Homo sapiens: one gene and its partners. The protein of the gene in region 2 purifies or fractionates together with the protein of the main gene of each other region. This does not show direct contact. Each region holds a gene or a part of one and is shown on either strand. Other genes may lie near its edges.

Region 1 (3,500 bases), on a different chromosome or scaffold from region 2:
ATAAACCAAATTTGGTGGCATTAAACACCTCCAGTAACAGTGCTCCTGAACCATCTCCAATTATTTGGGAAACACCACTGAGGCCAATTCTGCCCCCTATTCTAGGTTCTGCAGACTGAGGTCTTCTTAAGTTTTTTAAAGCAGGCTTACAGGCTTGAAATGTAATCTCCTTTGTACTTGTATTCTCCCATTTTATCCTCACAATTCAGACATAAGTTGGCAAATGAAAAAAAATATTTTTAAAAATCCTCACAACTAATTTGTAGGTTGAGAATTATTATTGTCATTTGGAAGATAAGGAAAAAGACTCAGAAAGGGAGAGACTTGTCTAAGGTGACCAAGCAAGTCGGTGGCAGTTAGGATAAGAATAATCTCCTGGTGTCCAGACCAGGGCCCTTTCCATGAGACTCCATTCTATCATAATCGCCTGTATATCTTCCAACAGAATCTTATCTCTCATGCAATCAAAGCACTGTAGCAAATTAGCCCAAATATACCCAGTTTTTTACCCACTTAATGAGTGCTTATAAACTCATTAAGTTCAATTCTTACAAGGCCTGATTCATCCATGTATTTTTTTCAAACTTTAAAAACCAAACGCTTAAGGGTAGGTGTGATCTCCAGCAGCATATTTCCCTTCCCACCCTGGTCCTGACTCCTTACCTGTCCAAGCGGTGTGGGAGAGATAAACCTGAGTGATGAGCCGGTGCCGCCCTGGGCCAGGATTCCGGAAGTCTGCAGGCTTGGGGTGAATCATCTGAGCCTGGCCATCTGGATATAAGACCTAAAGGGTGACAGAAATGAGAAAAAGGCAGAAGCGAGAGGAGCATTTAACAAAATGGATGATGACATCTGTTGTGAACCTCAAAACACAAGAAGAAACATGACACCAACTTTACTAAGATTGAGCCTTGGGGGTAGGTCAACACTGTAGACATCTCTATTCCCCTAATCCAGCATGAAGCAGTGTTCAGTAAACATTTCCTGAATTCATGGTGAATAAGTAATATGAACAGAGTGTCTCTATTAAGCGCAAAGACAGGTAAGAATATTAATTCTTATTATGAAAAGTGTTCTCAGGCACCTTCACCAGAAGAGCACTCCCTCCCTGGCTCTGAATCATACCATGGCCCAGCATCCATCACCAACCACCAGTATTTGGAGTTATTTTGTAATTGCATTCTTTCCACTACATTGCAAGCAGCTAGGAAGTCATTTATCTCTCTCTCTACGGAGAGACGGCTCAATGAAGAGTCCACTCAAATCACTGGCCAGTTCTTTAAGGCTCATAAACTGCAACAGAGTTCTTTCCTCAGCATCCTGGGGGACCTCCCAGCTCCCTGTGTAGACAGCCTACTATACTGCAGCGCACAAAGGAACTAGAGGAACAAATGAAGCTTATCCTAGGACTAGGACCTGCTCTATGTAAATATACTTATGAAGGCAGAGTAGGGAACCACACAGGTCTTCCAATGTTGAAACTGTGGTCAATGTTGAAACTGCGGAAGGCATGTCTCACCCACTTGCCCTATAATCCTTCATCTCTCCTCAGGTCATGGGGCCTCCCCCTGATTCTACACTTCTTTCTTTCTTTTTTTTTCTTTAAAACAGGGTCTTACTCTGCCACCCAGGCTGGAGTGCAGTGGCACGATCATAACTCACTGAAGCCTCAAACTCCTGGGCGCAAGTGATCTTCCTGCCTCAGCCTCCTGAGGAGTGGGGATTACAGGCACGTGCCACCACGCCAGGTAATTTTCTTTTTAAATTTTTTTGTAGAGACAAGATCTTGCTATGTTGCCCAGGCTAGTCTCCAACTCTTGACCTCAAGTGATCCTCCTGCCTCAGACTCCCATAGTGTTGGAATTACTGGCATGAGCAATTGTGCCCAGCCTACCCTTATTTCTTTTTCTTTTTCTTTTTTCTTTTCTTGAGATAGTCTCACTCTGTCACACAAGCTGAACTGCAGTGGCATGATCTCGGCTCACTGCAACCTCCGCCTCCCGGGTTAAAGTGATTCTCCTGCCTCAGCCTCCCAAGTAGCTGGGATTACAGGCGCCCACCGTCATGCCCGGCTAATTTTGTATCTTTAGTAGAGATGGGGTTTCACCATGTTGGCCAGGTTGGTCTCGAACTCCTGACCTCAGGTGATCTTCCTACTTCAGCCTCCCAAAGTGTTGGGATTACAGGCGTGAGCCACCACACCTGGCCTACCCTTATTTCTTAAAGCTGCTACTCCCCACTCTAGTTCTAGGCTCCAAGCTCCCAAACCTACTATAGGAAAAAAATGCAGGTGTCTCAGTTTCCTGATCCTTATTATCTTTAAAGACAAGTGCTTGGGCTTCATTTTTTTTTAGAAAATGAAGGGGAGGGCCGGGCACAGTGGCTCACACCTGTAATCCCAGCACTTTGGGAGGCTGAGCCAGGTGGATTACTTGAGGTCAGGAGTTCAAGACCAGTCTGGTCAACATGATGAAACCCCTTCTCTACTAAAAATACAAAAATTAGCTGGGTATGGTGGCGTGTGCCTGTAGTCCCAGCTACTTGGGAGGCTGAAGCAGGAGAATCACTTGAACCTGGGAGGCAGAGGTTGCAGTGAGCTGAGATCGCTGCCACTGCACTCCAGCCTGGGTGACAGAGTGAGATTCTGTCTCAAAAAAAAGAAAGAAAGAAAGAAAAAGAAGGGCAGAGGGGGGCTGAAACAGCAATGATCATGGGAAAAACAAATGAACAGGGGCCATAATTTCTGTGTTCAGCAGGTGCAGTGGCTCATGCCTATAATCCCAGCATTTTGCGGGGCTGAGGCGGGAGGATTGCTTGAAGACAGGAGTTTAAGACGAGACTGGGCAAAAAAGTAAGACCCCCCAATCTCCACACAAAAAAAATTAAAATTAGCCAGGTGTAGTGGTGTGTATCTCTAGTTCCAGCTACTCAGGAGGCTGAGGCAGGAGGATCCCTTGGACACAGAAGTTTGAGGTCACAGTGAGCTGACCATGCCACTGCACTCCAGCCCAGGCAACAGACAGAGACCTTGTCTCAAAAAAAAGAAAAAAAAAATTCCCAGCATTCTCAGCAAAACTGTCCTTGGTGAAAGGCCTTCACTCCTCTGTGAAATGGTTGCTGGAAGCCTTCTTTCATTTGTCTACTCCAAAAGTGGAGCTTAGAAACCTGTGGCCCAAGTAGGTCAGAGGAAGGAAATGGCCAGTATGAATGATCATCAGGTAGAATACAGTAACCTAGATTAGGCTTACAAGAGTTAATAATCGCGAAGGCCCGCGGCGGGTGTTGATGCCATGTGATTTCTGCCCAGTGCTCTGAATGTCAAAGTGAAGAAATTCAATGAAGCACGGGTAAACGGCGGGAGTAACTATGACTCTCTTAAGGTAGCCAAATGCCTTGTCATCTAATTAGTGACGCACATGAATGGATGAACGAGATTCCCACTGTCCCTACCTACTATCCAGCGAAACCACAGCCAAGGGAATGGGCTTGGCGGAATCAGC
Region 2 (3,500 bases):
TTGAGGTTACTGGAAGAAAGGGGTAATTTTCCCCTAACCAGTAGCTCCTGATCTCGGTCTCTTCACCTGAGTCACTTGCGGGGCGCTGTTGAGGAATCTGCGGGGGACTCTCATGTACGGACCCCTCTATGGCTGTCCTCTGAATTGTCTTTTCCACCTGGCAAAGTGTGCCCACAGAAACACTGAAAAACTTAACTTCAGGGCTTCCAGTAATGTCTGAAACAGCTCCTAGTGCTCTCATGCCTTCATAGCACCTACACTCTCCATCCCTCTCCCTTGCCCAATTTGCTATTTGCTTCAGACACACCAGCCCTGTCAAAATCTGACACACAGAAGCTGTCTAATTCATGTTGATTATTTGGTACTTATGCCCATATGTCCTCTTTCTCCATGCCTCCATAGCCCATCCTCTGCCCTGCCAACACCCAGGCCCTGGAGTCTTGGCTTCCAAACACACCTCCAGTGCTGCTTCTCACCTTACTTACCCAGCTGTAGCAGTGGAAGCATCACTTCCAGCAGCAACAGTTCTCAGGAACAGCAGAAGCTCTTTACTACACTGGCTCTGACATCAGAACCATATGGTTCAGAAGGAGTGAGGTGATGCGTAACTGAAAGAGGATGTGGGGATGGGGAGAGCAGAAGTATCTTTAGCCAAGTCAGGGGCTTCTGTCTCTGGTCATCGTGAAGGCCTGTTCACCTGGAGAAGCAGGAATTATATGGGATGAGAGGCTCATGAGCACGTACGGACAGGGAGGCAACTAAGATTGTCTGTGAAGCCTCAGTGTCATGTCTGCTTTATTCTTTGTTTTATTTTTGTTTTTTGAGATGGAATCTTACTCTGTCGCCCAGGCTGGAGTGCAGTGGCTCGATCTCGGCTCACTGCAATCTCCATCTCCCATGTTCAAGCGACTCTTCTGCCTTAGCCTCCCGAGTAGCTGGAATTACAGGTATTCACCACCATGGCCAAATAATTTTTGTAGTTTTAGTAGAGATGAGGTTTCACCATGTTGGCCAGGCTGGTCTCAAACACCTGACCCGCCTTGGCCTCCCAAACAGCTGAGATTACAGGCATAAGCCACTATGCCCGGTTTGTTTTTGTTTTTGAGACAGGGTCTTTCTCTCTCTCTGTCACCCAGTCTGGATTGCAGTGGTGTGATCACTTAAGATAGCAAAGTGTTGACATTCTCTCAGGAAAAATATGATAATGTTTAGTTTGGTGAGAAGTGTAAAACAACATCTCCCTACCACAGTATAATTGTTTTGCCATAAAATTTGAAATGAATGGTGTAAGTAACATTGTATAGCATGGCACAATGTTCCCTTTTATATCCCATGTAGACATTTATTTAATAAATTTGTTCTCAGTAAATTTCTATTAAAAAAGAGACAGCACGAGACCCTGTCTCAAAAAAATGATCAATTCCAATTCCTACTGGATATCATGACTTAAAAATCCATAGTAATTCCAGCGTGGGCAACATGGTAAAACCCCGTTTCTACAAAAAATACAAAAATTATCTGGGTGTGGTGGTACGCACCTGTAGTCCCAGCTACTTGAAAGGTTAAGGTGGGAGGATCACCTGAGGTAGGGAGGTCAAGGCTGCAGTCAGCCGTGATCACGCCACTGCACTGTAGCTTTGGGCTACAGAGTAAGACTTTATCTCAAAATAAATAAGTAAATAAATAAAATACATACATACATACATAGTAATTCATAGAGTATGGTATTGACACAAGGATAAATAAAAATACCAATGGGACAGGCTATATGGTTAGAAAAATACCTATACATATGTGATCACTTGGTTTAGGATAAATATGGCACTGCATAGAAGTTAAAGGACTCTCTTTTGAATAAATTGTGTCAGAATAACTGGACAGCCATACAGCAAAAGGAAATAAGACCCCTACCTCATGTCATACATAAAAATAACTTCTAGGGACATTGGGAAAGTCCTTAGACTTTTTTTCTAGAACAGTGCTGTGTGAAGAAATATAATGTGACCTATAAATGTGGACTACATGTATAATTTTAAATTTTCTAGCAGCCACATTAAAAAGGAAGAAATGGGTAAAATTAATTTTAATGATGTTTCATTTAACCTAGTGAAAGAAACCTAGGTTATTCACTAGGTTATTCATATTGAACCTAACCCAATATTTCAACATGCAATCAACACAAAATTGTTAAGATTTGGTACATTCTTTATACACTCTTCAAAATCTTGTATATATTTTACACTTACAGCACACTTCAATTCAGACTAGCCATAATATAAGGGCTCAATAGCCATATGTAGTTAGTAGCTACCACATTGGTCAGTGGAATTCTTTAATACAACATAGGAGAGTATCTTGGTAAGTTTTAGGTAAGGAAATATTTCTTTAAAAGGGCCAAAAAGCACTAGCTATGAGGAAATATGGATAAAATGGACTGTATCAGAATTAATTTCTGCATCAAAAGATACCATTAAGGAGGACAAATGCAAGTTGCAGGGCTGGAGAACATACTTGCAACACATACAACGTGCTTGCATCCAGAACATAGCAAGGATAAAGGGGGTAATGAATGGTGTAGTACATGAGTGGAGTGTTTGGGGTGTTGTTAATGTTCTATTTCTTGACCTCAGTGGTGGTTACACTGGTCTGCTCCCTTTGTGATAATTTGAGTTGTATACTTACTATCTGTATTAATACTTCTCTGTATAAAATTGTACTTTGATTTAAAAGCTTGTTTGAAAATAAAGACAGAGAAACAAACAGAAGGGATACAAAAGAGAATAGAACGGTTGGGACAAGTAGAAATCATGTACCTAGATGTTAGATTTAAACTCCAATACATCAGTGATTTAACTAAATATAAATGGCTTAAATTATCCAGTTATGAATCTAAGATCATCATATTGGAAAAAAGAAGCAAAGCCAAACTCCATGCTGTTTACAAAAGACACAACCAAAGCATAAGTGTAAAGGACAGTTAAAAAACCAAATGGGCCGGGAGCGGTGGCTCATGCCTGTAATCCCAGCACTTTGGGAGGCCGAGACGGGCGGATCACGAGGTCAGGAGATCCAGACCATCCTGGCTAACACGGTGAAACCCCGTCTCTACTAAAAATACAAAAAATTAGCTGGGTGTGGTGGCGGGCCCCTGTAATCCCAGCTACTCAGGAGGCCGAGGCAGGAGAATGGCATGAACCTGGGAGGCAGAGCTTGCAGTGAGCCGAGATCATGCCACTGCACTCCAGCCTGGGCGACAGAGCAAGACTCCGTCTCAAAAAAAGAAAAAAAGAAAAAACCAAAGAATGAAAACATACACCAAGCAAATACCAACCAGAAAGCCAGGTAATGTAGACATACCTACATTAACATCCCATAAAGCAGACTTTAAGCAAAAGGCATTACCAAAGATAGAATGGCATATCTCCTAATGATAAGCTGACATTAACAGGAATAAAGTATATATTTAAAATTTGTGTTTGCCTACTAACATAGTCCAAAAA
Region 3 (3,500 bases), on a different chromosome or scaffold from region 2:
CACCACCCCTCAGACTTTCACTGTACCTGACTATATCCAGTCTCCAAAGAGTGACTTAAAGTTAAATAACTTTATTGTTTGGTATTGTAACAGTTCAGAAGCTGGGAGAGATGAGAGTTCAGGGATTAAAGGAGATACAGTCTTGTTAGTAATAAAGCTCTGAAACCAAGGAACTGTATAGAGCCAGTACTCCAGTCCCAATGACTTAGAATTTGAGAGACAGCGGAGGTAATTATAAATCTACATTAAAGATAGCAGCTCTATACTCCCTACCTGCAAATCATTGGAGTTACAGGCCAAAGGCAACTCAGTAACAAAGACATGCTGACTATCTGTGCCCACGCTTCTGAATGAAGCTGGAAGCTGGGATGCTTGGTGCCTGAGACTATTTTTGTCTTTTTTTTTTCTTCAGACAGAGTTTTGCTCTTATTGCCCAGGCTGGAGTGCAATGGCGTGATCTTGGCTCACTGCAACCTCCACCTCCCGGGTTCAAGCGATTCTCCTGCCTCAGCCTCCCGAGTAGCTGGGATTACAGGCATGCGCCACCATGCCTGGCTAACTTTGTATTTTTGGTAGAGACGGGGTTTCTCTATGTTGGTCAGGCTGGTCTCGAACTCCCGGCCTCAGGCGATCCACCCACCTCGGCCTCCCAAAGTGCTGGGATTACAGGTGTGAGCCACCACGCCTGCATTTTTTTTTTTTTTTTTTTTTTGAGACGGAGTCTCATTTTGTTGTCCAGGCTGGAATGCAGTGGCACGATCTTTGCTCACCGCAACCTCTGCCTCCCAGGTTCAAGCGATTCTCCTGCCTCAGCCTCCCAAGTAGCTGGGATTACAGGCGCCCACCACCATGCCTGGCTAATTTTTGTATTTTTAGTAAAGACGGGATTTCACCATGTTGGTCAGGCTAGTCTCAAACTCCTGACTTCAAGTGATCCATCCGCTCTGGCCTCCCACCAAGTGCTGGGATTACAGGCGTGAGCCACCATGCCCGGCCTATTTTTGTCCATTTTCCACAACAGGAAGAAACCGTATGTTCTGATCCCTTTTACCTAAGTTTCCTGCTTCTTCTTTATCAAACCCATCACCAACAATTGTTTTAAAAATATACACCACAGTGCATTCCTTCCCTTCACCCAGGTATCCTTAGCCCCTTCGTATAGGGAGAGGATTGGAAGAATCGCAGCAGCACCCACTTTTGGCTGACTTAGAGCGGGTGCGGATGCCCTCATCCATGCTGTAGATCTCCTCTCCCTTCACACGGATATCCTGTAGCCGTTTGTCATCTGCATTGATGCCATGCTGGAGCAGCTTACAGAGTGCCACAGAGCTGGCAAGGAAGATCCAAAAAAAGGTCAATCAGCCGCCCATCTCGAGTTCACTCCAAGGAGATAAGCAATTATGTCCTAAGACCCTCTATTTGATAGTGAAAATTCCGTTAACAACTAATTAGGAGAGCTAAGAGAGTTCAGCTGAAAATGAGATTTTAGAGTTCATGAGGTGGTTTAATGAGATCTGTGCTTTTTTGTTGTTGTTGTTGTTGTTGTTGTTTTTGAGATAGGGTCTCATTCTGTCACCCAGGCTGAGTGCAGTGGTGTGATCATGGTTCACTGCAGCCTTGACCTCCCTGGGTTCAGGTGATCCTCCCACCTCAGCCTCCCAAGTAGCTGGGACTATAGGCATGCGCCACCGTGCCTGGCTAATTTTTGTATTTTTTTGGTAGACACAGGTTTCACCATGTTGCCCGGGTGGGTCTCAAGCAATTCGCCCACCTCAGTCTTCCAAAGTGCCGGGATTACAGGTGACCTGTTCTTCTTGAACAAAGCTAAGGTTGCACCATATTGTAAGGTGCAACGAGGTGATAAGAATCAGTGGTATAAAAATCCAGGATAAAAAGTTAGGAAGCCAGGGTTAGAAGGTTGGGTTTTTTATTTTTATTTTTCTGAGACAATTTCGCTCGTCGCCCAGGCTGAAGTGCAATGGCGTGATCTGCCTCCTTGGTTCAAGCGATTCTCCTGCCTTAGCCTCCCGAGTAGCTGGGATTACAGGCACCCACAACCACATCCAGCTATTTTTTGTATTTATAGTAGAGACAGTGTTTCACCATGTTTGCCAGGCTGGTCTTGAACTCCTGACCTCCGGTGATCTGCTCGCCTCAGCCTCCTAAAGTGCTGGGATTATAGGTGTGAGCCACTGTGCCTGGCCAAGGCTTGGGCTTATAAAGGAAAATAAGCCACTAGCAGCACTTAGCTGTGTGAAGTCTGTGGTAGAGAAGGGATCTCTTGTAAACAGAGACCAGAAATATATAGTCTACCTGTGTTGACTGTCTTTTGGGGATTTCAAGATGGCAGCTATTCACATATGTGCGTTAGCAATAAAGAAAGACAGGGAAAAGGGAATACAGAGAGCCATTTGAAATGTCAAACAAAAATCAATGGAGCAAATCAGGAAAAAAAAGAAATATGTGTCAGGAGCAGTGGCTCACACCTGTAATCCCAGCACTGTGGGAGGCCGAAGTGGGTGGATCACTTGAGGTCAGGAGTTCAAGACCAGCCTGGCCAACATGGTGAAACCCTCTCTCTACTAAAAACACACACACAAAGAATTCACTGGGTATGGTGGTGCATGTGTGTAATATTCGGACGGCTGAGGCAGGAGCAGGAGAATTGCTTGAACCTAGGAGGTGGAGGTTGCAGTGAGCCAAGATTGTGCCACTGCACTCCAGCCTGGGCGACAGAGCGAGACTGTCTCAAAAAAAAAAAAAAAAAAAAAAAAAAAAAAGAAATATGAGTGGTGGCAGAATGCCCAGAAAAGAAAGATGAGGTTCTACCTGACTTTGCCTTCATACTGTCCATAGAACAGGTGCTGTCGGCTTGTCCACTCAGCCATCACAAACTCTAGAGCAGGTTTGCCAGTAGGTCCTGGGAGGCTACACAGGAACTCCAAGAGAGGTTCTAGCTGAGTGTGCACCAGATGAGCGAACACCATGATCAGGGACTAGGAGAAAATAAGGACATTTGCTTCAGGGAAATCAATTTCAGAGACATAGGAGATGAGAGGGAACTGGCCAGTCAGATAAGAAATACAGTCTACACTGAGGGTATTATCCACAGGACAAGAAAACATGGGAGATTTCCTTGTCCATGTTTCTTAGGCCAAACAGATCAGACAGGTCCCATTTTACTTAACTGTCCTACAAGGCTAGTAAGAGGGTAAAATAAAATAACTCAGGACCAAAATACGAATTTTCATTTCTATCAGCCAGGGAGTAGGAAGCCCACTCCCCACTGCTCTCTTACCTGCATGACACTGAGCGTCTCTGCCTGCTGCATCTTACTGAGGATGGCACGAAGAATCTGGTCTAGATTCTCCCCGAGTTCCCGCCCTGCCTTGGAGATGAGGGTGGAAACAAGGCGGCCCACAAAGGCCGCAGTGAACTCTGAGGTGCGGGGGTCCAGGAGCTGGCTCACCACTTGCATCACATACCACAGTCCATTGTGG
Region 4 (3,803 bases), on a different chromosome or scaffold from region 2:
AGTGAGCTCAGTGGATTGCAGCACTGCACTCCAGCCTAGGCGATGAAGCAAGACCCATCTCTATTAAAAACAAAAAACAAGCAAACAAACAAAACCAGCGCTGGGCATGGTGGCTCACACCAGTAATCCCAGCACTATGGAAGGCCAAGGTGGTAGGATCACTTGAGCCCACGAGTTCAAGACCAGCCTGGGCAACATAGTGAGACCCCACCTCTACTAAAAATTTAAAAAAATTACTCCAGCATGGTAGTGCGCTGCTTGTAGTCCTAGCTACTGTGGTGGCAGAGGCAGGAGGATCACTTGCGTCCGGGAGGTCGAGGCTGCAGTGACCCATGACTGCAGCACGGCTCTCTGGCCTGGGCGACAGAGAGAGACCCTGTTCCAAAAACAAAAAAACCACAACACTACAGACTAACCTCTGGCTAACAAAGGAATTTTTTTTTTAAGGTGGGGTCTCACTGTGTTGCCCAGGCTAGTCTTGAACTCCTGGACTCAAGCAAACCTCCTGCCTCGGCCTCCCAAACTGCTGGGATTACAGGCATGAGTATGCACCCAGCCTAACAAAGGAATTTCATTAAGGCTTTATACCTTTGAGAGAAGAAAAACAATTAAGTATTATTACCATAGCAATGCATACTAACTAGGAAAATCAATCTGAACAGCAGACCTTTCAGAGGTTAGGGGTTATTTTCCCAATTCATGGTTTACATAATTCCTTTCTATAGTTTATATAACTCCTACCACCTGCCATTCAGTCACCTTTGTAACTATCATTTTTAATAATGCACATTCTCAGTTTATTCTTTACTTACCGAGTTCCATTTACCTTGGAAGTAAAAACATTTTTTCCAAATTCTTACAGCTATCTGCTTCAGCAAATGGTTAAATACACCCTAAATTAAATACTTTATTTAAATGAATTAATCATATCTACCAAGTCATATATGATTTTTTGTTTTTTGTTTGCAGATACGTAAAGAAGGGAGAGGTAACTATAGCACAGATCAGCTGTGTGTTCTTGACAATGTGAAAATGAATTTGCGAAGATTTATTGCTTATCAAGAAACTGTTGAGAAAAGACTGACTTCTTAAACAATCCAAAAAAGAAACCAGTTCTTCCCCCAAAGTATTCAATGCTTAGAATACTAAAAGGTTTTCTTTGAATGTATATGTTTCTGAAAGTCATTTTTTAATGATTACATTCTGTACATTCTGTAAAAACTTCAAAACCTGGCCAGGCATGGTGGCTCACGCCTATAATCCCAGCACCTTGGGAGACCGAGGCGGGTGGATCACTTGAGGTCAGGAGTTTGAGGCCAGCCTGGCCAACATGGTGAAACCGCATGCATAAGCATGGTGGCACATGCCTGTGATCCCAGCTACTCGGGAGGCTGAGGGAGGAGAGTCGGTTGAACCTGGGAGACAGAGGTTGCAGTGAGCTGAGATCACGCTACTGCACTCCAGCCTGGGTGACAGAGGGAGACCCTGTCTCCAAAAAAAAAAAAAAAAAAAAACTTCAAAACCTGTCAGAAACTCTGTTGCTGGTTTTTTTGTGTGTGTGTTTTGTTTGTTTGTTTTGTTTTGTTGTTTTTTTCTTTTTTGAGATGGAGTCTCACTGCTGCCCAGGCTGTATTACAGTGCTGCGATCTTGGCTTACTGCAACCTCTGCCATTCCAGGTTCAAGCGATTCTCATGCCTCAGCCTCCTGAGTAGCTGGAATTACAGGCACCCACCACCACACCTTGTTTTTGTTTTTGGTTTTTTGGTTTGTTTTTTTTTTTCAGTAGAGACGGGTTTCACCGTGTTGGCCAGGCTGGTCTCAAATTCCTGACCTCAAGTGATCCGCCTGCCCTGGCCTCCCAAAGTGCTGGGATTACAGGCATGAGCCACCGTGCCTGGCCAGAAACTCTTTTTTAAGTGATGAGATCTGTGTGGCATTTCTAGCGCTCTCTAAATTATGTCTCTGGCATATTTTAATCACTGGAAACTCAAAGAGTGGAAGAGTGGAAGTGCGAAGGAATCTCAGGTAGCTCTTAACTAATTCGCCAGCAGTGAAGAAACTTCAACCAATCATGTTTTCCTTGAATTTTGCAAAGAAAGAAAATCCAAAGCATTGCTTGGATGTTCTTTTAAGGCATTTTATATCAGTTGAACCTTAAACTGAAATATGAAGACAAGCTTTATAAACTAGTTTTTTGATATGAAGTATATCAATTATGTTTGCCTTTTGTGAAGAAGTAAATGAGTTGAATTTCTATTTCACTTACTAGATTATACTAATGAGCTAATGGGGTCATTGCCATCCTCCCTACTCATGACTTTGATGAGTTATTGCTGTAACATCACTTCTTGATTTAATTTGATATGGAATCAGAATTGGGAGAAGGTATTTTTAAATAAACAACTTTTTAATGGAAAGTTTTGTGTCTTACAAAATCTTTTTTAAGATACCAAATAAAGGGTTATTAGTAGAAAATGAGATGATACTATTCGTGGATATTTGTTTGCTAATGCATATTGCTTGGAATATATGTGAGACATTAAAAAAATGACAGCACGACTTTGCAGCATTACCTCTCAGTGTCTTCGAAGTACTAGGTGACAGCTGGGGCTCGAGGGAGTTTCCCTGTGCATCATTGTCTCGGCTGGGCCTCTGAACCGGCTTCATTGTCCATCCGTTTGCCTGATGAGAAGGGAAATTTGAAAATTTCTGTACAGTTGATCTCAGTTGCCCTGACAAAAGGCCCAATCCCCAGTACAGGACTTAATTTTAATTCACTGCTTCCACAGCAGCACAAAATGAGCTAGTAGTGTTAGATTTCATCTGCACTGTGATGTATTTTACAGTTTTCACCTATATGATATAGACTGTTGGGAAACCAAGATTGTTTCCCAGCCCTAAGAGTTCCTAGCCCATGGCACCAAGTAAAATAACCCAAATTGTGTATATGGTGGGAAAACAGAAATGTATACCATATACAACACCTCGCTTTATTATGGTCCTTGCTCATGAATTTTAAGGTATATATGTATGTTTAGTGATCATTTCAGCTAAATGATTGGCCCAAGCATGTCTCCTTGGAGAACGACTCTTCCAAAAAAGAAAGTATTAGAGTTCTCTCTGCCTCAATTATTTATAAAATATAATTATTTTCAAGGAGAAAAAAGTTCCTCATTCTGTTTATTCTTCCCCACAGTTTCTGACCTATAAACAATATCCAGGATATTTAGCACAGGACCTAGTATATAGTCGACTCTTCATAAATATTTGTTGAGTAAATAAATGCTGGTGATTTTCTCGTTGTTTTGTGTGTGATTTTCTGTTTTACTAAGCAAGCTCTAAAGCAGCTGTTGAATGCAGAATCATCCTTAAACACGGTAGAAGATGAGATGACACTGAAGATGTGCCATCCTAAAAATCTCTTAGATTCTGAGGCATGGATAATTGGGTCTGGATTTCTCCCATTCAACTTTACCACTCTAACGACACAAAAGAAGGGAAAACAACTCATAAATACAGCATACAGTTTTAACTATTTACATAATAACTCAATAGAGCATGCAAGTATTATTCATGGCACAGGATAATGGAGAGCTTTTTCTGTATGACCATAGGGGAAAAAAAGTCTGCTTTAAAATATACTTATTTGAAAATCACCCAGAATAGCCCGTTAGAAATACACACTGGAGGCCAAGCATTTTGGGAGGTCGAGGTGGGCAGATCACTTAAGGTGAGGAATTTGAGACCAGCCTGGCCAACATAGTGAAATCCCATCTCTACAAAAATACAAAAACTAGCTGGG
Region 5 (3,500 bases), 5.4 Mb from region 2:
ATGCAGTAGCCTTCAGATCTTTTCCCATGTACATAAAAATAATAGTATACTTAGCCAATGTTTACTGTATATACTAACTCATTTAATCCTCAAAATAGTCTTGGGAGGTAAGCCCTGTTACTATCCCTGTTTCCTAGAAGAGGAAACTGAGAGCCAGAGAAGTTAAATGTCTTGCCTCAGGTCATTCTGCGTATACATAAACACATACTTGACAAAAATGGCTTGAACTGCATGTATTGTCCTCTGATGCAACAGGCTGTCAGGGACCTCTTTTCAGGATAATATACTGAGATTCACCTTTTTTTTTTGAGATGGAGTCTGTCTTTATGTCCCAGACTGGAGTGCAGTGGCATGATCTCGGCTCACTGCAACCTCCGCCTCCTGGGTTCAAGCGATTCTTCTGCCTCAGCCTCCTGAGTAGCTGGGATTATAGGCTCAGCTAACTGTTGTATTTTTACTAGAGATGGGGTTTCACCATGTTGGCCAGGCTGGTCTCAAACTCCTAACCTCAGACGATCCACCCGTTTCGGCCTCCCAAAGTGTTGGGATTACAGGCGTGAGCCACCGCGCCCGGCTTCACCAATTTTTTTTACCCTGTTTCCTCTGCTGGTTTTTGGTTTATCCTTTCAGATTTTTTTCCTTTTTTAACATATATATTTTTTCCCCTTTCTTTTTTTTGAGTCAAGTTCTCACTCTGCTGCCCAGGCTGGAGGGCAGTGGCCCGATCTTGGCTCACTACAGCCTCTGCCTTCACCTCCCTGAGTAGCTGGGACTACCAGGCACGCCACCATGCCCAGCTAATTTTTATATTTTCTGTAGAGATAGGGTTACACCATGTTGCCCAGGCTGCTCTCCGACTCCTAGGCTCAAGCGATCTGCCTGCCTCAGCCTCCCAAAGTGTTGGGAGTACAGGCATGAGCCACTGCACCTGGCCTCATTTTTCTTTTTTTTTTGTAAAACAGAAACATACAGTCAACACTGTCTTCAGCTTTGCTTGTTTTCACTTAATGTATGCACTCTCTATCAGTGTCTAGAGATTGTTCTCATTTTTTTGTTTTTTTCTTCCTTTCTTGTTACAGTTCCATAGTCTTTTTCCTTTATTTATATTTATATGTTTTTCACTTACTTTCACAGGTGTTGAAGCCCCATGGCCTTTGATTATGTATGAACTTTTTTTCAGCCAGTCTCCCTATTTGAGAACACTTGAGTTGCTTCTAGTCTTTTGCTATTATGAATAGTTGTGTAATTGACATATACTGCTACGTTAATCATTCCATAATTTTGCCTGTGTGACTGTGATGGATGCCTGAAAGCCCCCTTCCTCCCTTTTAAAAACAGCTTCATGATATTCCAGAGAGTGGCTGAAACATAATTATTGAAGCAGGCCTTTTGTGATGTATTGAGTGCCTACTATGTGCCGGACTCTGTGCCTGATATTCCTCAGAGCTGTGTTTTTAAAAGTTTACTCTGGGCCAGGCACTGTGGTTCACGCCTGTAATCCCTGCACTTTGGGAGGCCGAGGCAGGTGGAACACCTGAGGTCAGGAGTTTGACACCAGCCTGGCCAACATGGTGAAACCCTGTCTCTACTGAAAATACAAAAATTAGCTGGGCATGGTGGCATGTGCCCGTAATCCCAGTTACTTGGGAGGCTGAGGCAGGAGAATCACTTGAACCTGGGAGGCAGAGGTTGCAGTGAGCTGAGATCGCACCACCACACTCCAACCTGGGTGACAGAGCAAGACTTCATCTCAAAAAAAAAAAAAAAAGAAAGTTTGCTGTGGTGCCCAGTCCAAAGCATATCCCAGATGGAGAGAGGGGACACACGGAGACCTGCAAGGTGGCTGTTGCACGTTCATGTGGCCCATCGTTCAGCAGCTGTTTGTGGTTGGCCCACTTGAGGCTGAGACTTCTGGCTCTGCCTTGGGAGATGTCAGTCTCCCCCAAGTTACAGGCCCCGTGCACATATCCATAAGCCAGAGACAGACCCTGGAGGGGAGAGGGACTTGAGAAGGCCTGACTGGGGAGGAACAGCCTGGGAAGGAGGCTTGGGCCCTTTGTAGGTGTTCGGGTGACAATCCAGCCCAGCCCATCCGCTGGTTCCCTGAGCTTGATCCATCCTCTTCTTTCCTGGGGACAAGCTGACAGCAGCCATGGCGAGCGGCAGTGGAGACAGCGTCACCCGTCGGAGCGTGGCATCACAGTTTTTCACTCAAGAGGAGGGGCCGGGCATCGATGGCATGACCACCTCAGAGAGGGTGAGCGTGGCGGGTAGGGCTTGGAGTGAGGAAGCATAGCCCCTGGCTTTGGCAATCCCTGTTTAGGTGGCAGAGCCCTGGGAGTGCCGAGGGGGCTGCACTGGGCTGGACTGGGCTGGCACTATCCCCTGCCACTCCCCCTCCTTCCAGGTGGTGGATCTTCTGAACCAGGCGGCGCTGATCACCAATGACTCAAAGATCACAGTGCTCAAACAGGTGAGGGCCCGGGGGGCATCCTGGGCTGAGCAGGTGAAAGGGAGGAGGCTGGGAACCTGAGAAAGACACTTGCAGTAACACCAGTGTCCACATTTACACACTCAGTGTGTGCCGGCCACAGTGCTCAGTGCAGGCCTCTGCTCTTCTAGTTCTCATGAAAGCTCTGTAAGGCAGGGTAGTTTCATCCCTGTTTTATACAGAAAGAAGCAGACCCCGGGGCTTAAATTATTAGCCCAGGGTCACTCTGCTGGGAGCTGGCTGAACTAGTAATTGAATCCTGGATTCCAGCTCCAAATCCTACACTCTTCATCATTGCATTTCTTCTCTGCCAGTGTCCAGTCCAGTGGGGCAGACATTCCTGTCACCAGGCAATGATGACCCAGTGTGGGCAGGGCTGGGATGGAGAAGGGAGCCCAGGGGGGCTCTGGGAGCCCAGAGGGAGCTCCTGACCCAGCCTAGGGATGGGGAGTCAGGGAGGACTTTTGAACCAAGCCATGGAGGATAAAAGGAGAGAAGTGTACCAAATGAGAGAGGCAGAGCATCTCTTTTTTTTTTTTTTTTGAGGCAGAGTCTTGCTCTGTTGCCCAGGCTGGAGTGCCATGGCACGATCCTGGCTCTCACTGCAACTCCTGCCTCAGCCTCTTGAGTAGCTGAGATTACAGGCACCTGCCACCATGCCTGGCTAATTTTTGTATTTTTAGTAGAGACGCGTTTCACCATGTTGACCAGGCTGGTCTCAAACTCGTGAGCTCAAGTGGTCCACCCTCCTTGGCCCCCGCAAACTGCTGGGATTACAGGCACGAGCCACCGTGCCCAGCCAAGAGAGGGAGAGCATGTCAAGCTGAGGGCACAGAAGTGTGTGCAAAGGCAGAAGACGACATGGGACACTTGGGCTGGGCATGGTTCAGAGCAGGAGGCAGTTGGAGTTCAGAGACTGGCAGGGTTAGCATTCCTGTGTGAGAACCCGTTCGGCTCCTTCATCAGCCTGTAGCCTTGTGGAGTAGCCCCACCTCCGAGGTGGAGTGGA
Region 6 (3,500 bases), on a different chromosome or scaffold from region 2:
TCTCAGGCCACTCTCTTCTCAGTATGTGTCCTTGTCTGAAACACGTGGGTAATAATTTCTGTTTTTTTAGGGTTATTGTGAGGAACACAACTAGTAGATGCTCAATAAATGACAGCAATGACTACTATCATTACTGTGGTCTGTGCAGTCACAGCGGGTGGGACTGGAGCTTGAGAAAGAGCTGGCATCAGGACAGGGGCACCAAATGTGACCGCTGTCTTTGGTTGGGGGATCCCAGGAAGGCTGTGTTCACCTCCACCCTCCAACCCCAATGATGGGCTGTCCACCAACCTTGCTCACTGAATTCACTATCCTCTGTCTCCATCTGCTCCTCATCCTCATCACTGTCGTAGTTGTAGTTGGGGTCGTGTTTTATGTATTGGAGGCAGAGGCTGGTCACGTTGGGCACGTGAGGACCCATTTCCTTGGGGCACCTGTGGGGCAGGATGAGGAATGCTTTGCTGGATCCAGCCAGGACAGGAGTGGGGGACAGGGCCCAATGGGAGTCCTGAAATTTTACTGCTTTGGGCCAGCATCCCCACCAACTTCCCAAAGGGATCCCCAGGCAACCCCACCATACATACTTCCTCAAGAAGGCCTCAAAAGCCTGGAGGCAGGACTCCCGGAGCTCATCATCATCCAGGTTGCAGAAATCCTCCACCAGGGGCACCAGGCGGTCCAGGTGAGCCCCTGCAGGGCCAGGTGGATCACTGAACCCAAGCCAGACACTCTCCCGGAGTTCCCCCAGCCCACAGCACTCAGACTGTCTATGCACCTGCAGCCCTGACCACTGTAGATTCAACTCAGAGGTTTCATAGTCAAGCAAATGTGGGTTCTAGCCCTGACTCTGCCACCCAACTGCTATGGGACCTTGGGCAGGTCACAACATTTCTTTGACCTTAGTCAGCTAATCTTCACAACAAGGATAACAGTGCCTCCTGGGCAGAGATTTTGTGAAGATAAATTATATAATGATAAATAGCTTAGGCCAGGCGCGCCTGTAATCCCAGCACTATGGGAGGCCGAGGCGGGTGGATCATGAGGTCAGGAGATCGAGACTATCCTGGCTAACAAGGTGAAACCCCGTCTCTACTAAAAATACAAAAAATTAGCCGGGCGCGGTGGCGGGCGCCTGTAGTCCCAGCTACTCAGGAGGCTGAGGCAGGAGAATGGCGTGAACCCGGGAAGCGGAGCTTGCAGTGAGCCGAGATTGCGCCACTGCAGTCCGCAGTCTGGCCTGGGCGACAGAGCGAGACTCCGTCTCAAAAAAAAAAAAAAAAAAAAAAAAATTAGCCGGGCACGGTGGCACACACCTGTAGTCCCAGCTATTCAGGAGGCTGAGGCAGGAGAATTGCTTGAACCTGGGAGGTGGAGGTTGCAGTGAGACAAGATAGCGTCACCGTACTCCAGCCTGGGGGACAGAGCGAGATTCTATCTCCAAAAAAAAAAAAAAAAAAAGATAAACAGCTTAGGCCGGGCATGGTGGCTCACACCTGTAATCCCAGCACTTTGGGAGGCCAAGGCAGATGGATCATCTGAGGTCAGGAGTTCGAGACCAGCTTGGCCAACATGGTGAAACTCCATCTCTACTAAAAATACAAAAATTAGCTGCACGTGGCAGTGCGCCCCTGTAATCCCAGCTACTTGGGAGGCTGAGGCAGAATTGCTTGAACCTGGGAGGTGGAGGTTACAGTGAGCAGAGATCGTGCCACTACACTCCAGCCTGGGAAACAGAGCAAGACACGAGACTCAGTCTCAAAAAGAAAAAAAAAAAAGAAGTTAAAAAAGCTTAGTCCAAGGTTGGGTGCAGTGGCTCACCCCTGTAATCCCAGCACTTTGGGAGGCCGAGGCGGGCAGATCATGGGATCACAAGGTCAGGGGTTCAAGACCAACCTGGCCAACCAACATAGTTAAACCCCGTCTCTACTAAAAATACAAAAATTAGCTGGGTATGGTAGCGTGCGCCTGTAGTGCCAGCTACTCAGGAGGCTGAGACAGGAGAATCACTTGAATCCGGGAGGCGGAGGTTGCGGTGAGCCGAGACTGCACCATTGCACTCCAGCCTGGGCAACAGAGCGAGACTCCGTCTCAAAAAAATAAATAAAAAAGCTTAGTCCAGGTTCTACACGAGCAGGCACTCGATAAATAGCATCTGTTATCAAAACCATTATTCATGTCCTGGCCTAATTTCCTTCACTAGGTTTAAGTCCTTGGATAGGAGAAAGGGAGGCAGGTACTGCCCTAATAGACCAGGCAAGAGGGGTTCCTGCCTGGTCTCCAGGCTTTAGAGCACTCCACTCAAGCCCTTCTCCAGCCATACCCTTCCCTACAGCATAAGAAGAGACATGCTGACCTAGAGACCCCCAACACTCCTAGACTCCATTCTGTCTGGGTATCTGGGGACCCGAGTTTCCTGCCCAATGGATCCTGACCCCTTGTCCGAGCCTGCGCAGGCCTCTTTCCTAGGTCCATGCAACCAAGGATGGCTGAGGGCTGGCTGCTGTTTGGGAGAAATGGGACAGGGTGTGGCCATGTCAGCTGGGGTTCCCCCCCCCACCCCCCGCCGTGTGCCTGCAAGGCCCCTTGCAGTGAGAGAGCCAGGGGTTGGGAGGGGCTGACCATATGCCAGTTCTATCCAAACTGTCTTGGTATAGTCAGAACTCCAAGGTGTCTGAGGATACATTCAAACCTGATTGCAGCTTTCCATTTCTAAAAAACTAATCTATAGTGACAGAAAGCAGATCAGTGGCTTCCTGGACAAGGCAGAGAGCTGGACTGCAAACGGACACAAGGAAGCTTTTGGGGGTGATGGAAAGGTTTCACGGATATACACAAAGGTCAAAACACACTGAATTGCACACTTTAAATAGTGCGGTTTATTGTATGCACATTAAATTGTTTCTTAAAAATTCAAACTTGGCTCATGGGCTGTTACTAAGATATCTTTGTCAAACTGGGAGAAGAGAACATAGTCTAACAGTTTAGTGGCATGACTTAAAATTGTAATTACCAGCCAGCCTCCACGTCTCATAAGTGATTGAACCAACCCCCTTCTCTGAACCGTCTGCACTCAGCAGGGGCTCAGGCCTGGGGGTTTGTCGAGCTCAGGGCCCGCCCTGCGCCTCTCAAGCCCTATCCGGCCCCAACCTCTGCGTTTCAGGGGCTTCAGCCGCCCGCCCCAGGCCCCACCCACCACATCAGCCCAGGCCCCGCCCCATCCTCCCTACCAAGGCAGACGGCCCACCCTTAGGCCCTGGCTGCACTGCGGCCCAAGCTCCGCCCCTTTACCGAGTCATTGGCTCACCCTAAGCTCCGCCCACCATGCCAGCCCAGGCCCCGCCCCCTGCCCCCTTACCGAGGCGGTGGCCGGCCTGGCGGCCGACGCTGCCCAAACATTGGATCAGGGTGCGGATGGCAGTCGGGCTGGTGGGCACCCGCGGGCCGGGCAGCCGGTCCAGTAGGTGGTCAGCGAGCTCGACGAAGAGGTCGGTGCTGCAGGC
Region 7 (3,500 bases), on a different chromosome or scaffold from region 2:
AATGAAAGCCCTGGTCATCAGCACTGTGAATTATTTACCGATTTCTTCCATAGCACTTGCCATAAATGATAATTATGTTGCTGCTTTGTATTTCCTACTAACCTGTAAGTCTCAAGATGGCAGGGACTTTATGTAAACTCAGCATTTAGTATATGCTTAACAATTAATAGCTAAAAAAAAAAACCGAGGTACTGAATGAATAAATTATAGGATCTCAAACATAATCTATATCCTCCCTCCCTTAATATCTTCCAGATATGACTGCTTCAGATGGATTAAGGTCAAACTCAAATTTACTATCCCTGCCAGGCGCGGTGGCTCACGCCTGCAATCCCAGCACTTTGGGAGGCCAAGATGGGTGGATCACTTGAGGTCAGGAGTTCAAGACCAGCCTGGCCAACATGACAAAACCCCATCTCTACTAAAAATACAAAAATTAGCTGGGCATGGTGTCGCACACCTGTAGTCCCAGCTACTCAGGAGGCAGAGGCAGGAGAATTGCTTGAACCCGAGAGGCGGAGGTTACAGTAAGCCAAGATCACACCACTGCACTCCAGCCTGGGCGACAGAGCAAGACTCCATCTAAAAAAAATAAAATAAAATTTTCCTTTTTTTTGTTCAACAGTTATTTTTTCCTACTATCAAGGTCAATGGTAAAAGCAAACCTACTCGAAAAATTAAGAACTATAAACATAAGCAGAAGGCCCTTTTAAAATATAAAGGTATATTGCAGGAAACTGGAATATTTGTAGTAATAAAAGCAACTGCTGGCTTGATATAAAGAGACAGCCACCAAACCAACCAATAGAATGGCTACTAGAGCAGAACTACTAAGCACTCAAAGACCTTTAACTGGTAAGTGACAGACCACAGGTCCCTGTGGGACTTTCTGAGTTATGGTGGTTGACCTGTAGTCTAAGGATGTCAATCTGCTCAAACGTTGTTATTCCTTCAAGAGTAGGAGTCCTGCCATCACTAGTTCAGATGTCTGAGGGAATTAGGGTGTAAGATAGTTCTGTTATAATAACCACTGAGTGGGAAAAATGAGCCAAAGAAGAAACAGCTAAGATCGATGTTGTCACATTTAGATCTACAAAATCATCAGGTAAAACCCACATGACAAAATTCTCCTGGCCAAACAAAATGTATAAAATACGCTAATATGCAAACCCAAAAGCTACAGATCCTGCAAAACACTTCACCAAGAAGAAAAAAGAAAACTAAGCTTTCTGATATAACTGGAAAATTTTCAATTACGAAACACTTCATTATAGGTTTAACACCAACACTCCATCAGAAGGTTGAAAATTAAGTTTTTCACTGCCACAAAGAACACTGTGTTATGAATCTGTCCCACCTGCAGGCAGCTTCTTGTACTCTCTTGTTGCTGTCCAGGATGCGCTTTAGCAATTCTGTCATTAATGGCTTCAGGTACGTGTCTGGCGGCTGGCTGACCACCCAGTGTGCATAGCGGCTAAGAGTCCAGCATGTTATGGAACGCACAAGAGCCTTTTTATCAGAGAGGCACTGAATAAGGTGAGGAATAAGCTCAGGCAAGTATGGAATCATGCCCTGCATGCAACCTAGAAAAAAAATAAATCTTTCAAAATGCTAAAATTTAGTTAACATTATTTTGGTTGATTATGAAAATAAAACACGTATCTATGAAAAAATTCAGAATATTTCTACTGCTATACACATACTACAATAACCTATACCAAAATTATTTTTAAAACCCTGAAGTTAGAGCTACCTGCTCCCAAGCATCTTACAGTGTTTCAATTTCTTCTAATAGATGTTTACTGCCAGGACAAAATCAATAATAACCCTTCATAGAGAATGAAGAGAGTCTTGCCTTATTGTGTTTCCTATACTTACCTAAAGAATCAAGGATTTTTTTTTAAAGCAATGGGGATGCTTCAGACATCAGAGCCTTTCATTCTGTTCCCTTAATTTTTTTGTTTTTATTTTTTATTGAGATGGAGTCTTGCTCTGTCACCCAGGCTGGAGTGCAATCGCACGAATTCAGCTCACTGCAACTACCACTTCCCAGGTCCAAGCAATTCTCCTGCCTCAGCCTTCCAAGTAGCTGGGACTACAGGCACATGCCACCACGCCCAGCTAATTTTTGTATTTTTAGCAGACGTGGTTTCGCCATGTTAACCAGGCTGGTCTTGAAACCATCTCAGGTAATCCACCCGCCTAAGCCTCCCAAAGTGCTGAGATTATAGGCGTGAGCCACCATGCCTGGCCTCTGTTACCTTTATTATAACAAAAACATTTTGCAAAATATCTAGCTGGGGTTAGAAGACGGCCTATGGCTGTTTAATACTAGTTATCTGGTTCAAAATAGAAATTCCTTAAAGTAGCCTAGCCTTATTAGTACCTAATAGTAGTAAGAAGCCAACTTACATAATTCAAACTGGACTTAGGCTTACCTTCAGCAATTGCTCCTAAAACCAAAATGCCTGATTCTTTAACAACCCATTCATGATGAAAAAGTAATTCTTTCAAAAGGGGCAAAATATGTGGCAGCAGTTCATCACGATACACATTTGCAAGAACATCCAGGGCAGCAGCAGAACATTTTCCTAAGGAAATATTTAATTCAAAAATATTACATTAACCTCTTATTACTTATATATTATTTATTGTATATGTAACATTTTATTCGTATCTCTAATACGGAGTTTTAAAATAAGAATTCAATTGAATAGGAGGTAGTTTGTCACGTGAAAACATTTTGTGGTTTTTTTTTTTTTTTTTTTTTTTGAGATGGAGTCTTGTTCTGTCGCTCAGGCTGGAGTGCAGTGGTGCGATCTTGGCTCACTGCAACCTCTGCCTCCCAGGTTCAAGTGATTCTCCCGCTTTAGCCCCCTGAGTAGCTGGGATTACAGGTGTGTGCCAGTACGCACAGCTGATTTTTAGGAGAGACGGGGTTTCACCATGTTGGCCAGGATGGTCTCAAACTCCTGACCTCGTGATCCACCCTCCTCAGCCTCCCAAAGTGCTGGGATTACAGGTGTGAGCCACCATGCCCAGCCAAAAACATTTTCTATTAAGATGAATATTTTTTATGACAAGAACTTACTTGGCAAATTAATTGTGAACACATTGTATTCTGTACATAACTGTCATACTAGAATTCTGTCTATACAGTAAAACAAATACTGTGCCACTCAATTCAGTGCTTCTAACATAACCATTCAATATGATACACTCATATTACAATCATGATTACAATCACTGTTACAATCACGCAAAAAACATACATTATTAACTCTACTTAACATTTCCAGCAGTATATCATCTAGAATTAAACAGACAATTACTTAGCTGGACTTTAGACACAAAAACTGGAAGAAAAGTCACTGGCACATGAAACATAACGCATGCTAGAAAATACTCTTTACAAAGAATTAACTATGGGACTATAAATCAACCCAGATTTTATTATAATAATAATTTAGACAAGAGCAACAAAATCAAAAAGAACAACA

Evidence for each region.
Region 1: the proteins of SIGLECL1 (region 2) and INTS4 purify together in Homo sapiens (co-immunoprecipitation; 3 studies listed by BioGRID and IntAct, with this or other methods). This does not show direct contact.
Region 3: the proteins of SIGLECL1 (region 2) and IPO9 purify together in Homo sapiens (co-immunoprecipitation; 3 studies listed by BioGRID and IntAct, with this or other methods). This does not show direct contact.
Region 4: the proteins of SIGLECL1 (region 2) and HEATR3 purify together in Homo sapiens (co-immunoprecipitation; 3 studies listed by BioGRID and IntAct, with this or other methods). This does not show direct contact.
Region 5: the proteins of SIGLECL1 (region 2) and SYMPK purify together in Homo sapiens (co-immunoprecipitation; 3 studies listed by BioGRID and IntAct, with this or other methods). This does not show direct contact.
Region 6: the proteins of SIGLECL1 (region 2) and CAND2 purify together in Homo sapiens (co-immunoprecipitation; 3 studies listed by BioGRID and IntAct, with this or other methods). This does not show direct contact.
Region 7: the proteins of SIGLECL1 (region 2) and TNPO1 purify together in Homo sapiens (co-immunoprecipitation; 3 studies listed by BioGRID and IntAct, with this or other methods). This does not show direct contact.

What each region holds. Positions count from the first base shown.
Region 1 is NC_000011.10:77,883,169-77,886,668, forward strand, and holds part of INTS4 (integrator complex subunit 4), read right to left. Parts: intron 1,749-3,500; exon of another isoform or gene 1,612-1,748; intron 785-1,611; coding exon 664-784; intron 1-663. UniProt on the Homo sapiens protein: Component of the integrator complex, a multiprotein complex that terminates RNA polymerase II (Pol II) transcription in the promoter-proximal region of genes.
Region 2 is NC_000019.10:51,261,080-51,264,579, reverse strand, and holds part of SIGLECL1 (SIGLEC family-like protein 1), read right to left. Parts: intron 698-3,500; 5' UTR 508-697; coding exon 486-507; exon of another isoform or gene 403-485; intron 1-402.
Region 3 is NC_000001.11:201,870,657-201,874,156, reverse strand, and holds part of IPO9 (importin-9), read right to left. Parts: coding exon 3,299-3,500; intron 2,997-3,298; coding exon 2,830-2,996; intron 1,330-2,829; coding exon 1,196-1,329; intron 1-1,195. UniProt on the Homo sapiens protein: Nuclear transport receptor that mediates nuclear import of proteins, such as histones, proteasome and actin. Serves as receptor for nuclear localization signals (NLS) in cargo substrates.
Region 4 is NC_000016.10:50,103,970-50,107,772, forward strand, and holds the end of HEATR3 (HEAT repeat-containing protein 3), read left to right. Parts: intron 1-969; coding exon 970-1,092; 3' UTR 1,093-3,303; downstream 3,304-3,803. UniProt on the Homo sapiens protein: Plays a role in ribosome biogenesis and in nuclear import of the 60S ribosomal protein L5/large ribosomal subunit protein uL18 (RPL5). Required for proper erythrocyte maturation.
Region 5 is NC_000019.10:45,853,148-45,856,647, reverse strand, and holds part of SYMPK (symplekin), read left to right. Parts: intron 1-2,140; 5' UTR 2,141-2,152; coding exon 2,153-2,257; intron 2,258-2,407; coding exon 2,408-2,473; intron 2,474-3,500. UniProt on the Homo sapiens protein: Scaffold protein that functions as a component of a multimolecular complex involved in histone mRNA 3'-end processing. Specific component of the tight junction (TJ) plaque, but might not be an exclusively junctional component. May have a house-keeping rule.
Region 6 is NC_000003.12:12,810,180-12,813,679, reverse strand, and holds part of CAND2 (cullin-associated NEDD8-dissociated protein 2), read right to left. Parts: coding exon 3,356-3,500; intron 691-3,355; coding exon 585-690; intron 435-584; coding exon 292-434; intron 1-291.
Region 7 is NC_000005.10:72,886,161-72,889,660, reverse strand, and holds part of TNPO1 (transportin-1), read right to left. Parts: intron 2,592-3,500; coding exon 2,439-2,591; intron 1,584-2,438; coding exon 1,358-1,583; intron 1-1,357. UniProt on the Homo sapiens protein: Functions in nuclear protein import as nuclear transport receptor. Serves as receptor for nuclear localization signals (NLS) in cargo substrates.